3 separate regions of the Homo sapiens genome follow, and all the other regions are linked to region 1. Evidence: fine-mapped expression QTL. A gene starts in region 1. Each other region holds a variant in brackets. All regions are shown on one strand. Distances are from middle to middle. Region 1 holds the start of KCNMA1 (potassium calcium-activated channel subfamily M alpha 1). Region 2 overlaps KCNMA1 (potassium calcium-activated channel subfamily M alpha 1). Region 3 holds the start of LOC124902464 (a long non-coding RNA gene).

The links. PIP is the estimated chance that this variant, and not a neighbour inherited with it, causes the effect. A credible set is the group of variants that fine-mapping cannot tell apart.
Region 2: its variant is the best candidate, but not a certain one, in a credible set for the expression of KCNMA1 in monocytes after interferon gamma (Fairfax 2014, PIP 0.89).
Region 3: its variant is the best candidate, but not a certain one, in a credible set for the expression of KCNMA1 in monocytes (TOPMed, PIP 0.77).

What each region holds. Positions count from the first base shown.
Region 1 is chr10:77,635,896-77,640,974 of GRCh38, reverse strand. KCNMA1 (potassium calcium-activated channel subfamily M alpha 1) reads left to right here and starts at 3,167. Exons shown (of 28, transcript NM_001161352.2): 1 at 3,167-3,710. The coding sequence starts at 3,333.
Region 2 is chr10:77,560,212-77,565,290 of GRCh38, reverse strand. The region is part of intron 1 of KCNMA1 (potassium calcium-activated channel subfamily M alpha 1); the gene reads left to right. Among named protein-coding and RNA genes, the nearest start is that of KCNMA1, 75 kb to the left of the region's middle. RefSeq lists enhancers at 1-166, 167-1,023 and a silencer at 1-200. The variant G/A (reference allele first, on the strand shown) is at 2,947.
Region 3 is chr10:77,535,106-77,540,184 of GRCh38, reverse strand. All of the region lies in intron 1 of KCNMA1 (potassium calcium-activated channel subfamily M alpha 1), which reads left to right. It overlaps LOC124902464 (a long non-coding RNA gene), which reads left to right and starts at 2,164. Exons shown (of 2, transcript XR_007062205.1): 1 at 2,164-3,259; 2 at 3,472-5,079. The variant T/C (reference allele first, on the strand shown) is at 2,108.

The DNA.
Region 1 (5,079 bases):
CTGACCTCAGGTGATCCCACCGCCTCAGCCTCCCAAAGTGCTGGGATTACAGGAGTGAGCTACCATGCCCAGCCTTCTTTTTCATCCTCACATATAACCCTTCGAGGTAGGCAGGGAAGTTTCTGGCTTTATTTTGATTGTATAAATGAAGAAACACATCAAATCAAAGATACCTAAGGTTCCTTTTAAGTTTGAGGTTCTGTCTGTGCAGAGCCTTTTCCTAAATTTGTAATGCCAGGGGCCAAGTTTTCTGGAAGTGGTGCAAAAGTTTGTGAACAATGTGGAAATGGCCAGAGAGAACTGGGCAAAGGCCTGGGAATGTCTATTTCTGGTGGATGGTAGCACTCTCTCAGTGCTTACCAGCCAGGCCATTCAGGGAGGAGGTGAGAGACTGGGGATTGTAGGAAGGAAAGGATATTGACATCAACACTGAGAGTTTCTGATGATTCCTGACTAAGCCGAGGCTTTGGACAGCACAGAAGTTGCTAAAAGCTTCAATCAGCAGAGGCAGGGGTGATGAAGAGAGCAGGAGATGGCATCTGAGGGGCCTCCAAGCACCCTCTCCAAAGATGCTGAGGTGATGAAGGTGATGATGGAGGAGAAAAAGCTATAGATCCTGCAGTTGGGGTGACAGAAGTCACGGCCATCGGCTGCTTACCAGTAGACCCCAGACTGGCATTTCAGGGGAATCCAGGCTGTAGGGAATGTCTAAGAAGGCCCCAGAGGGGATTTGCTGGTTTGCAAAATTTCAATTTTGTGGGTGAGGGAATCCATTCTGGAGGTTTCATATCCCACTGGGGAGACAGTCCTATCCTTTGCTGCCCTTTTTATGTTCTGGGTGTTTTATTTTTAAATTTCAAATCTTGGCCTTGATTTAAGGAATGTCCTTAACTTTCTTGGCATTGCTGAGGCACAAAAGCAGCAAACTACAGCCATTGAGAGGCTAATAAAGGAACCTCAATGCCATAGTCACCTTCCTGCGCATCCCCACAGCACTTCTGGGTCCCGCTCCCCCAACCCAGTACCAGAAAAGGCCCAGGGCCTTTGCATGCTTGGGTCTGGTGTGGCAGGGATGCATTCAGAGTGGCTGAACACAGAGGCCGAGGTTGGAGGTACTATGGGATGGTATGGAGAGGAGGCTCAGACAATTCCATTTTCTGGAGCACACTTTCTGCAGCTCCCTTTTACATACACTTCTTTTTGAGAACCAAATACTCAAGAACTCTTACCTCATTCCATTTTCTCCTTTGACTTTGGCCTTGACTCTTTCTTAGTGGATGTGTACTCTAAACCCAATGAATGTATTCCGAATCAAGCAAGAGAGAAGCTTCAAACATCCTCTTCAGCCTCTCTGCCCAGCTCAGCCTCCCTTGCTCGCTCTTCCTTCCAGAGACCTCCAAGGACAAGGGCAGGGCTGATCTGACTCTCACGGAGACAGCCTCAGGTGTAAAGCTAAGGATGCTAACTTGGGCCTTTTCCATGGGAAGAGCTGAAAGGAACCTGAGAATTCCAATTAGGCTTAAACTAATGAGCTGGAAACTTTGGGGAAACCACTGCAGCAATGAGGGAAGAGCGTGATCATCCTCGATTTAATTAGCGCTGGAAAAACTTGGGGTCCAGCTGGTAGCACGAGGACGGACGCTGTTCAGGGGGCGCAAAGTTTCTGAAAGTGTCAGAAGGGGGATTCCCCTGGTGGTGTACGGAGACACGCTACGGAACAAACACGGACTCCTTCTTCATCTTAAGTGGGGAGAAGGGAAGACCCTAAATGGGGAACGGTGAGCCAGAATGAAGTCTGGAGTCCCTCTTCCCCCATCTGCCCTCCTCACGGGATGGATGGAGTCTGAGACTATATGAGAGGAAAGCAACCCTTCAGGGAACTCTATTGTCTATCGGGGCCTGCACTATCCCCAGGCCAGGTCGTCCTTGATCATTTCTGCCTACTCTTTGTTGGGCAGCCTCTGTTGCTAATAAGGAAAAAGGAGAGAAACCACCTGCTGCTGTCAGAGGCCACAGACCACCCGCTGGCCTTCCTGACTCTACCCTCCAGCCACACGCGGGACCCTGGGCACATAGGTAGCAGGAAGAGCGAAGTAGGGGTGGGTAGCTGTGTGTATCCTGGCGTGGGGTCCTCCTCACTCCCGAAGCCCGAGGGTCCTGGGGAGCTCAGCCTGTGGAATCCAGTTGACAGCTGGCCACTCCTCCCCTCCCCACTGGGGGCTCTTTGGGGAAAAAAACGGCCTGACCGGGGCGCCCCGCCGTCCTCCCAGTGTACCCCACCGCTCTCGGCTGGGGGCGCAGCACCTTGGAGAGAGGCGCCTGGCCCCGCGCCTGGGCTGGGGGCGCTCTACCTTGCGCCCTGGGGGTCAGGGGCGCTTGCCGGGCCGCTGCCGAGGGGCCCTGCCCACCCCTGCCCAGCCCGGAGCCCAGGCGAGCCAGCGCGGCGAGCCTCCTCCCCTCCCGCCTGGGTCGTCCTGAGTCCGCGCCCGCTCCAGTTGCTGCAGCTGCTGCTGCTGGCGGCTGCGGGGAGCGCGGGGCGCGCGCCGAAGAGGCTTGGGCGGCGAGGACGGGGACGAGGAGGAGTCGGAGGCGGCAAGGAGGAAGAGCGAGCGGAGGCCGAGGGGCTCAGCGGCGTGGCGACAGGACTAGGGGGTCCCGAGAACATGGGCTAGCAGGCGGCCACGGGCCGGCGGCCGGACGCGGTGAACCTGCCGCGGCCGGGCGCGCACTGGCGCGGCGAGCCGGAGCCGAGCGCAGCCGGGGGAGGAGGGCTGGCGCAGGGGCGCCCGGGCGGAGGGGGCCGATTATCCATTATTAACGAGTTACCACCTAATAAGCGGAGAGCGGCTCGTTAGCCGCGCGGGAGGCGCTCGGGGAAGGGGGTCACCGGCCGAGCGCAGCGCACACCCGTGGCGCACGGCGGGCGGCGCGGCGCCGAGGACACCCGGGACCGCGCGCGGAGCCGGGGCGGGCCCGGGGGCGGCGCAGACCCCGGGCGCGGGCGGCCCGCGGCGCCCCCTGGCTCTCGGCGCTCGGGGCCAGCGCAGCCCGGGGCGAGCGGGGCGCGGGCCGGGGAGGGGGAGCTGCCCGCGCACTCCATCCCCCTCCCCCCCGGGCGGGCGGCGGCGGCTCGCTGTATATATCTCGGCGCACCCCGCCAGGTCGCGCACAGCGCCCCGAGCCCAGGCGCCTCCCCGCCCCCCTCCCGCGCTCCGCGGCGGCGGCGGCGGCGGCAGCAGTAGCAGCAATATGGCTGTTGATGGGTGTTTGGGGTGGCGCTGGCGGCGGGAGGAGCTCCCCCGAGCCCCTGCGCCGGCTGCCCGTTGCTAGCTATGGCAAATGGTGGCGGCGGCGGCGGCGGCAGCAGCGGCGGCGGCGGCGGCGGCGGAGGCAGCAGTCTTAGAATGAGTAGCAATATCCACGCGAACCATCTCAGCCTAGACGCGTCCTCCTCCTCCTCCTCCTCCTCTTCCTCTTCTTCTTCTTCCTCCTCCTCTTCCTCCTCGTCCTCGGTCCACGAGCCCAAGATGGATGCGCTCATCATCCCGGTGACCATGGAGGTGCCGTGCGACAGCCGGGGCCAACGCATGTGGTGGGCTTTCCTGGCCTCCTCCATGGTGACTTTCTTCGGGGGCCTCTTCATCATCTTGCTCTGGCGGACGCTCAAGTACCTGTGGACCGTGTGCTGCCACTGCGGGGGCAAGACGAAGGTAACGCGCGCCCCGGGCGCCCGCCCTCTGCGCCAGCCCCACCGCTTCTCGGCGTCCCCTGCAGCCCACCTCCTCGCTCCGCGCCGCGCCGTGCCTCCCTCCATCCCCGCCTGCCTTCCCCTCGCCGCCTTCCCTTCCCTCGGCTCTCCCGGTGCTCTCGGATCGGGGCAGCGGGCGGCGCGCCGGGGGTGAGGAGTTGCCCCCAGCCAGTGCGCTCCGGGACGCGGACGCTCAATCCTGTCCTCTTGTTTATTGTAGGGTTGTTGGCGGCTGCGGCTGGGGCCGGGGTCGGGGACTCACAGGCTCGGGTGCCGTGGTGCGGGGTGGGGACAGCCAACTCAGCGGGGACGGAGGAAGCTGGGGGCAGCTGGGTGCGTGTTTTGCACCGCTCACCTGCCGGGGCTCGGCTCCTGGCGGTGGGCGAGAGGGAGCACATCCGCCCATACTTTAGGAACCTGTTGGGGAGATGAGTTCGTGGGGTCAGAAAGAAGGGAAAAATCCTTTGGGCAAGGGAGAGAATAATTTTGCACAAGGGAATCCCGGGGGAGGAGCATGGCCCGAGATAACAGGGGGACTTCGAGGGGCGAGAGAAGTTGGGGAGATCCATCCCACTATTGGGGGTAGCCCACGGGGCTGCCACTTTTGGAATGTGTCGAGGTCGCATATCTGATGTAACCTCCCACTCCGTCCCTTAGGTGCTCTAGTGGAACATACCCCAAGTTCTTCGGCCTCTGTTCCTTTGCCCCCAGGCCACCCACTTTGGGTCCCCGGAAATGCCACCAGCAGCGCGGAGCTGGAGCGGGAGTCCGCCTGAGGCCGCGGTTTTACGCGGAGCGTCTTCCCTGGCGCTCGAGGTGGCTAGATGTCGTCGGCTTTAGCTATTCCTGGTGCAGACGCCCACCGGCACTGAGGCTGGCGACACCTTCGATGTATGGTTGCTAGGCTCACTGCCTGGTCTGTAGTCGTGTCCCTAGAGATGTCTTCCCTTCCCCACAGCCACTGGCTGGAGTGGGGGACCCGACACTGATAGAAAACTGCAGAATAAAAAAGAAAGAACTGGAAAAAAGAGAGTGAGCCAGCTGCCTTCTTTCTGAGTAATTCCCATCCTAGGGGACTTCACGCGCGAACCGTTTTGGAGGGAAGGGAAATCCAGGGGAATAGTGCAGGGTAGATACACATTGCAGCCTCCACATGTTCACATCTTTTCTAGTAAAGTTAAACCGAGGACCCCTCAAACTTCTACAGGGCACAGCAACTTGTAGCAGCCTCCTTGGCGGCTGAGAGAAGTAGGGAAGCCTGGGGCTATGGGTGAAGGCTGGCTATGAAAACACCAGGGGGGAAGGAGCCTGTCTCTCCTGATCATTAATTA
Region 2 (5,079 bases), 76 kb after region 1:
CTTACCATCCGCGTTGTCCTCTAAAACGGGAATGGGAGGGAATCCCTGGAATCCCTGGAATCCCTGAGCCTGGAGGGATTCACAAGGGGAAGGTAACCACTTGCAGGAGGCCAGTGCTGGGTGCAAGGCAGGAGGACTAGGGGACACTTAAGGTCCAGCCTAAAGAGGACAGTCACTGAGAGTGGCCCTTGATGGGGCTTCCACTGGGACAGAGATGGGTGCTCCCAGAGGGCGATTTGGCCGAGAGGCAGTGGCTTCCCTTCTCACCGTCTGCCTGACTCATTGCCCTTGCCTCCTGGCCACTCTGCCAGCTTTCCTTCACCCCCTGCTGCATATCCTGCATGCAGCTGCCCAATTAAGCTCCCCAAATACTGATTTCATGATGTCACTGACTCCTCTGAACTCCTTTTACCTCCCTTTGTGATCAGAAGCCTGAACTTCTGAACTCCTCTACTCCTAAGCCAAAGAGTCCGCCCTCTGACCCCAGCTTGTCTTCCCTCTGCTATCTGGGAGTCTCTCCTCTTTTCCACTTAGTTGAGTTCCTGGTTAGTTCAAGGCTCCATTCATTCTTTCTTTCACCTAGATGCCAGGAGGAAGCTGCGAAGGCTGAGACATAAAGACATGTCACCTGCCCTCAAAGAGCGCTTGGTCTTGGGAAGGGGCATGCATGAAATCACCTTTTTTACATTTAAATTTAAATTTATTTTTGAGACAGAGTCTTGCTCTGTTGCCCAGGCTGGAGTACAGTGGTGTGATCTTGGTTCACTTCAATCTTTGCCTCCCAGGTTCAAGTGATTCTTCTGTCTCAGCCTCCAGAGTAGTTGGGATTACAGGCATGTGCCACCTGTAAAAAAAATACCTGGCTAATTTTTGTATTTTTAGTAGAGATGGGGTTTCACCATATTGCCCAGGCTGGTCTTGAACTCCTGACCTCAAGTGATCTGTCCGCCTCGGCCTCCCAAAGTGCTCGTGTTACAGGCATGAGCCACCATGCCTGGCCATGAAATCACCTTTGATCAGCGTGGTGAGAGCCACTTCAGGCTGCATACAAAGCCTTCCTCTTGCAGGAAGCCTTTATTGATTGCACTGTCACTGTGAATTCACTCTTCTCTGGAGGCTGGTGAATCCTCATCTCTGTTCTTCTCTTTTTGTTCCTTGTTTTCTGCCCGGTATAATTCACTTTCTTTTATTGCCAATATCTCTTGGACTTTAGCCCCAAGGAACATACCACACTGCCTGGCACTGTGCCATGTGCCTAATAATAAGGAGGTACATTTATATTGAGCTCTGATTCTGAAGCCTGTTCACATCTGTGATTCCCCTTACTTTGCATAACAGCTCTCTGGGACAGGTGGGACAAATGTGATAAGCCCCAGTCTGCAGAGCAAGAGACGACTTGCTTATGGGCACACAGTTCATAAGTGGCAGAGCCGGGACCAGGGACTGGAGTCTTGCCGTGGGTGTGCTACGCGGCCCCACAGAAGGATGGATGCATGGAGTCCCATTTTGTGGACTCCCCCCTGGGCCTGCAATGTGTAGGGATGTGTTAGGGGAGGATGAGAGGGCAAGAGGGGGATCTGTGGCTAGAATTCCGGAGGTTCGTTGGAACCAGGGAGGTACATGGGGTGACTTGAACCCCAAATCTTTTCATCTAGGCATGACACTCCCTTTTTCCTCTATGGAGACTGGGAATAGCAGGATGGAGGGAGGGTAGAAGGAGTAGAGGAGTCAGTGTTGGGGCTAGGGCTGGGAGGGACGGGGTAGAAGAGAGCAAGTTCTGGGGACAGAGGGCAGTCAGGAGACCTGTCAGTTCTCTCTGGGTAGCCTGGACTCTCGAGAGGACTGAAATGCATCAAAGGATGGGTAATGAAAAAATGGTGATGAGGACGGGTTGCCTTATCACCCAGAAGGGAGGAAAAGCTTCAGGCCCAACCATCCTGCTTAAACATTTGAGAATTCTATGCGGTTCTTTTAAGTATTTAGAGGTACTGGGGACAATGTGTCCAGAAAGTGGAATCCCAGCTCCTTCTCACCCCGGCTATTGATTTTTGGCCTTGCAATTACTGCAGAGGTGCTGCCTCTGTGAACACTATTAGTGCTAGTTGGAAAGCTTGAGCTTTTGAAGCTTAGCTGTTTGAGCTACCTACGGGTTTGGAAAAAAAAAGAATCTTACCATGTGTTTCTTTAGCCTGGGCATGAATCAAAAATAGTTGAACTTTTTTTTTTTTGCTCAAGTCTCAAGTTTAAAAATAAAAAAGTCACCTTTGGGCTGAGATCAAGAATGGAAAATTTCAGGGCATAGCGTAATTTTTTCCCCATCTGTTCTGGGCAAGGGATGATAAAGCATTCTGTTGGAAGATTGTGTGTAAGCATCAACCATGAGTCTCACTACTTTATTGCGTTGCAATGTCTACTTTGTTAAGATGTCTTGAAAGAAAGACTTCTTCCATCCTCCTGGCACAACTGAATGTGCTTGGTATGGGGAGACGTGTCTAACTGAATCTAAGCAACTAATTGGAATAGGCAAAGGAGGAAGTGATGAAAGTGAAGCTGCAGTTTCTGCAAAGGTGGCTTTATTGTATAAGGTGCAGGTTATTACCCCAAATGATCAATTACTAAAGTTCTGGATTGGGCAGTGACAAGTGTCTAGAGGGAATGCTGGGCCTAGGGAATTGCATTGTCATGTGAGAATAAGGCTGGGGCCACCTTTACATTTTCATTAAAAAAAGATCTGGACAGTACTTGACTGTGGTAGTAGACTTTGTAAAGGTTATTATGGTTACAGCTTTGTTTGCTTGAGATCCTCTATTTTTATAGTTCAATATTATTAAGGTATGAAGAAACTGTTTTATGGATGTCAGTTTTACTGTTTCTGACAACAGCTTGCGAGGAAGTATACATTTGTGCAACAGACCGCTTTGGATGTTAATTCTAAATTTAGAAGCC[G/A]CCTTCAATGGGTGTGGAAATCAGTTACACAAAATTCAGGTGCTTACTAAAAAAAATCTGAATATCCATGAAGCTTGTATGGTCCCTGGTGGAACTTTGAGCAGCTGAGCCTCTCTGAAGATCCTGAGGTTGTCAGGGTGTGGCACAGCAGCTGGGGGCTGGGCCCCGTGCATGCACATCAGCATCTGTGTATTGAATATAATCAGCACAGATAGGGAAGAAACAAACCACCACCACCAAACACCCTAAGTACCAATCTGGGCATCTGGGCACCCTGGATTTTCATTTTGACTCTGTCATTTACTAGTTCTCTGACCTTGGGCACCATGCTTTGCATAGCAGCCTTGGTTTCCTCATTGGTAAAATGAGGCTGTTGAATTCTATATGGCTCAAGAGTTCTTTCCAGCCCCGAAACATGCAAAAATTCAGTTTCGACTAAGAGCTTTAGCACTGTCTTATCTTGGCTGTTTGCAGTGGCCAAAATTGATAACATATTGGAAAACTTCCCTGCTGATTAAAATAGACATTGCCCTAAGTGCTGTGAGTGTCCCTGTTACCTTATCCCTTCTCTGAAACCCTCTGGGTTTCCCCTTGAAGCAGCCCCTAAAATGGCTCAGTTTCCAGCATAGCAGGAGGTCTCCAGCCTAGCCAATGGTGCCCCTTGTGAAGGTCATGGACCTGCCTTACCCATTGTTAAATGTTTTCCATCCCTCTGGTGTACGTGGAGAGCTTCTGGGTGGAGTGGACACAAATGATTTAACTTTCCCGAGTCTCTGCTTCTGCGCCAGAAAGTGGAAGGAATCATAACCAGTGTAGTGGAGGTAATTAGGAGGGTCCAAAGCTTGGACCATCTGGGTTCAAACCCTGGCCCCACCACTTAGTATCTATGTGAGTGTGGGCATGTCAGGTAGCCTTTCTTACCTCAATTCATAATCCGCAAAGTGGGGATGAGAATAGCACCAACTGTATCAAGCTGATGATGAGATCAAATAACACACAAAATTCTTAGAATAGAATAAGCACTGTAGAAGTGATAGCTCTGTGTATGTCATTAATACATTCACTGGTATCACTGAACTTTATTTTATATCAAGTGAGATAACTACTATACCATCCAGGGAGATAATGTGTGTGAAGCCCATAGCACAATGCTTGACAAATAGTTTTCAGGGAATGTTAGCTTCTATCTAAGCAGGTCCCATTGGAAAAAAAAAAAGTTGTATTTTTATATAGTTCTAGTTAGTTTCTCATCTGTGATCTATGCTATTTTTAATTGAAAAAAAAAAGTGTTTCCATACATTGTCAGGAGGAGCCGTTCCCCTGTCCCAGCCTCTCACAAAGCACACCCTCACTCCCTCATTTTTCCAGTAGTCCCAGGGCTAGACCACCTGTAGAGACAGGAAGCCTGCCTAAAGAGCAGAAGCATCTGCTCAGAAAGATCTAGTTGTTTGCTGGAGCCTCAGCTTGAAGAAGGCTCCAAGTTTATTATAAAGTCCCAGCCACACAGTTTGCTTGAGACTTTATAAAGAGAGAATGAGATGTAGAGGCTGGGCCCAAACCCACTACCAGGCTGTGGGAATGGGGGATGGGGTGCTTGGCTGGCATCTCTTCTCAGGGCCTCCTGGTCAGCCTCAGGAGATCTAGTGCTAAGGGTTACTCTGCTGGGGAAAATCTCAATGGCACTAGAGACCACTTGAGCACAGCTCTTAGGAACTGAGGAGCCAGCTACTTAGCATCCCAGAATCCCAATGCCCATGGCCAGAGCCAGAGCTGCTTAGAAGAAAAGCAAAGTCCGCAGGCTGCATGGACTGAGAACCACCTCACCTGGCTGCACATTCTCTGAGTGGCCTTGACCATGCTGTTCTCTGAGCCTCAGTTTCCTCATCAATGATAGAGTGGAGTTAGCTAGATCAGGGGCTTTCAAAAGCTTTTTCCCCTGAAACCCAGAATAAGAAATACCTTTTCTTTCTCAACCCAATACTTATGTTCATGTATGTAATTAAACAAAAGTTCCATGCAGCAACCCTTTTAATATGCAGTACTCTGTTTTCTGTGCTGTTGTTTCAGTTGAAAAATGCTGATTGTGAATGATTCAGTTGATTCTGTGACCTGCTGATGGGTCATAACCTGCAG
Region 3 (5,079 bases), 100 kb after region 1:
GAGTGTGGATGTGACTGCTCTGCTCCACCTGGCTGGGACATAGCAGGACAGGCAGCAACCCAGGTCTGTGAAATCAATCATGATGATTCTGGGAGGAATTATTGGTGAATTAGGGGGATGCTCCAAGGGATGGTCCAGATGGAGGTAGGTGTAAAGTGGAGTTTTGCTGGAAGGAGTTGTTTTTGCACAACATATTGATTTCCTTGGGGTGGGAGAAAAAAGAAACAGCAGCTCTTCGCTGCTCTCCCAGAGTGGTGGGTAGGAGAGGACAGGTGGGAGTCTGTGGGCCCCTTTAGCTGGTTATTTTTTTAGATGTACCATCAGGTAGCTGCAACTGTATTCCCACTGCTTCCCCAGCAATGCAAAGGGCAGATTACGAAGCAGAGCTGGGCTGGCAGCAAGTTTTGCTTTGCTTTCTCCCAGCGGCCAACAGCATTTGCATTGGTGGGTGGTGCACACACTCTGCAGAGAGAGGGCGATACCCAAGCCCAGGGCCCACAGACTGAGCACAGAACAGAAAATTAGGGCTGGGAATTCACCCGTGGCTCCTCAGTGTCTGTGTTGCCCATCTCTGATAGACTTCCAAAATAGCAGGGGCCAGGAATTTGGTGGGGACACCTGGGGATGAGGGGCCCTGCCAGAGCTGGGTTCATTCTTGAGGGAATGTCTCCCAAATCTGCCATTTAAGAGGATAGAGTTTCGGTCCCCAAGCTCAATTCTGCCTCACCTCCATGCTCCATTATCTGGGTATCCCCAGGCCACTCACTTATCCCACCCATGTCTATTCTCTTACCTGTAAAACTAGAATTGCAGGTATTTTAGTGGATACGTTGTTGGGAGATGACTCATAGGTTTTGATCCCATCTCCATCTCTGCATTATCTTGGACAAGCAACCTGACTTAGGTGCTTGCTTGTCTTTAAAATGCAGAACGTTAGTACCTATCATGCTAGCTCATTGGGAAGTTGGGAATGGCAAATAAGAGAATGGCCTTGCAGGCTCTTGAGGGAACAGAAAAGAGAAAAGTGGGTTCCTCAGAGACATATGCTCTTACCTAGGGTGGGGGAGCTGGTTTATGAATGGTGTAAGTCTCAGAGTCTCCAGCTTCTTCCCTAGGGTCCTCCCGGACCAACCAGCCTGTATTGGAGTGTGTTCAGCCTCTTGGGTAGATGTAGGACCGTGGGTGGTGACATGAAGGAGACAGGTTACTGCTCAGCAGGAGGGGGGACCTATGTACGGAGCCTCCTAGCCTCAGAGGCAGCTGTTACTATGCAGAGCCTTCATGCTGAGCCCTGTGCTAACCACTCCACACACACTGTCCCCTGAATCAGTCTTGACAACCAGCCCTTCACAGGCAGGGAGCAATGGGATTAGATGCCTTTTGTGGCACGAGAACAGGTTCATAGAGGCCCTCTGTTGGGTCAGATTTTAACTCCATATCCTTAGGTTTTAAGGAGATCCATGGAGTCTGTGGCAGAGGGACCAAGGTGGGGGAGGGGGTGCCATTGATGGATCATAGATGGGACTCACCATCTAGCTGGGCTGTTGAGGACTCCATATTAGCCTGGGAGTTTAGTACTGGCATTCTCCAAGACACACGTGAAGAAATTGAGGTTCAGAGAGGTGACCTTGCCAAGGCCACACAGCTAGTAAGCTGTGGAGCTGGGATTCTAACTCAGATCTGGTTGACTCAGAAGTCCAGCTGGGGGTAATGATGGCAATGAAAGCTCTAGAGTTGGAAGAGACCCAGACAAAGCGGGTTTGGGGCTGCTTCAGCGACCAAGGATCTTGGGGAGAATCCTGGCCCACGAGACCACAGTGGATTCACCTGGGTGCTGCTGGCCAAGAGTTTGAGTGTGAGTGTGTATGGGTATGTGTAGGGTGTAGGGTATAGCACATGTATGCAGTGTGAGTGTAGAGTATGTGAGTGTGACAGTATATGTGTGTTTGTGAGTGTGTAGAGTATGTGAATATGAGAGTATGTGTGAGTATGAGTGTGTCTAGTGTATGTGTGTGTGTTTAGAGTATGTGTAGAGTGTGTATGTGAATGTAGAGTATGTGGGTGTGTGTGAGTGTGTGTAGAGTATGTGAATGTGAGAGTATGTGGA[T/C]GTGTGTGAGTGTGTGTGTAGAGTATGTGAATATGAGAGTGTGTGTGAGAGTACGTGTAGAGTATACGAATGTGAGAGTATGTGAGTGTGTGTGTATGTGCGTGTGTATACAGTGCCTCCCCAAAGGCCCCACTCCACCAGCAGCCTGCCCATCCATCATCATAACGGGCGTGGAAGCCCATTCCATTCCTGCTGAGCCCTGCCAAAAAATCAGTGAGGGAGAGCCAGGAAGAATGTGCGCCGGGAGGAGCAGGCAGCGTGTTGCAGTCCGAACGGCCCACTGTGATGATTTGGGTGACGATGGGGCCAGCGGTGCCACCGAGACTCTGATGGCTCCTTAGGAGTTGTTATAGTCACAATAATAGATTGTTCTCTGTTTCTCAATGCTAGGTCCATTCTTTAAAATTTTTTTTTCTTCCTTTAGAGGCAGAGGAGGAGATGGAGAGTTGGTGAGATTAGGATTTTAGGTGTCTTCAAGTCAATTCTGAAACTCTAAGAAGAAATAGAGAATTCTGAGTGATTTTAATTTTTCTGCAGTCATGGGGGGAATTTCCATAGGGAAGATGCTTTCCAAGGAAGCTCATGTGTCTTGGACTCTGAAAGAGCCCTTCTCAGGCCTGGTTCTGGCATTTGTCCATGGTTTGGGGAAGGTGGGCCCTGGGTGGGGGCAAGGATGTGACTTTTGGAGCAAGGTGTGGGCACTGTAGGCTCAATGTGGTTCTGCTGGGGTGGTGTTCTTGTGGCTGAAGAATGTGTCCCCTGAGTTGGCACAGTGATGCATGACATAGGATGGACCAAACGGAAGGCATTTCCTGTCACTGAAATTAAAGGAGCAGGGGGGTGGAGGGGAAGCAATGGAGCAGAAGAGGAGTTTGGTTCTAGGAGCATTCAGAAGTCTTGGGAGTGTTGGGTTAGGTGACACAGTTCCTGTCTGTCCTGGGGCTCTATGTACTCCCCCTGGAGATTTCACTGGAACTGGTGATGTCCCGTGTTTAGGGCTATCTCTGGAAAATAAATATGAACATAAAATAATAAGAGGCTGAACCTACGAAGGAAATGAACTAAAGTCAATACACATTTTTCCCAGACACCATACAAGGTCCTGCAAATCACTGGGAAATGAATGGGACACAAGACATCACACTCCATGCGGTGAGCTTTGTGTTTGGTTTTTCCCAGTCATTGGCTGTGGTGAATCATGTGTTCTCCCTGTGTTCAAATGGCTGTTGAGAGAAAGGTGTGGATGTTGGCAGCTCTGGGGAGGAGACCAGTGATGACACCAATTGAGGGTGCACTATGGTGTTTAGATCATTGGCTTTTAAAATTTAGTCAATGACTTCTGAAGTGGGCCTTTTTGCTTCCAGCTGACAGACATATCAGAGTGCGGGAGACAGAGTACCCAATTCCAACCCCAACATCCTGCCCACAAGCTGTGGGAACCTGAGTAAGTTACTCACCTCTTTGTGCCTCTACTTCCTCATCTCTACCTGGGGGAGGCAGTCAACGTACCTAATGTTATTTTCATAGTAAGGCTGTTGCACAGAATAGATGAGTTCGTAGGTATGAAGCCCTTAGCTTTGTATCTAGCACATTCTAAATGATAAAAATATTGGCATTACTGTCACTAATGAGGATATTGAAGATCAGTGAAGTGAGGGAATTCTCCCAACACTGGGAAGAAAGACCACAGCAGGAAGTAAGCTCTGGGAAAGCCCATGCTGTCTGATTCTAACAAGAAGGATGCTGGCGTCCTCCTGCTCCGAGATGCCAGGAACTGTGGCCTCAAACCTGAGGGACAATTCTAAACTCCATCTCTAGACAAAGAGTAGTTGCCAAACCAAATAATTCCGCAAAATACACATGCCAGTGCATTTTCCTTTCTTTGTCTTAATTTTTATGGATACATAATAGTTTTATGTATTTATGAGGCCCCTGTGATAGTTTGCTGTGAGCACACAATGTGTAATGATCAACTCTGGGCACCTGGGATACCATCACCTCAAACATTTATCATTTCTTTGTATTGGGAGCATCCCACATATTCTCTTCTAGCTATTTTGAAATGTAGAATAAATTCTTGTTAACTACAGTTGCCCTGTTGTGCTACTGAACACTAGATCGTATTCCTTCTATCTACCTGTATGTTTGCACCTATCAACCAATCCCTCTTAATATCCCCTCCCCACTACCCTTCCCAGCTTCTGGTAACTACCATTCTACTCTCTTGCTCCATGAGATAGTTTTTTAGCTTCCACATGAGTAAGGACATGTCATATTTGTCTTTCTGTGCCTGGCTTATTTCACTTAACATAATGTCCTCCTGTTCCATCCATGTTACTGCAAAGGACAGAATTCCATTCTTTTGTATGGCTGAATAACATTTCATTGTGTATATGTACCACATTTTCTTTATCCATTTGTTCATTGATGGACACTCAGGTTGATTCCGTATCTTGGCTATTGTGAAGAGTGCTGCAATAAATACAGGAGTGAAGAGATCTCTTCTGTGTGATTGCTTTTCTTTTGGGTATATACCCAGCAGTGGAATTGCTGGATCATATGGTAATTCTATTTTTAGTTTTTTGAGGAACCTTCATACTGTTTTCCATAGTGGCTGTACCAATTTACATTCCCACCAACAGTGTATGAATGTTCCCTGTTCTCCACTTCCTTGCCAGCATTTGTTATTTTCAGACTTTTTGATAATAGCTGTCTTTTAAAAAACTGAATTATAACTACTTCCATCCGTATTTTTCGGAAGGAGGGGAATAAACTTCTTGGACCAAATCTGATGAGTCCTGAGATATGTGGGGTAGATGAACAGGAGTCAATGGTGGGACCTTTTGACTTTTGAGCCCTGGTTGGAGTATTTTGGGATGTTAGAGCGTCCTTCTGGAATTAAGATGTGCTTAGTAACTGATGTGTGGTTGCTACTGGAGTGTGTGCATGTGTGTAGAATTTAAGAAATTATA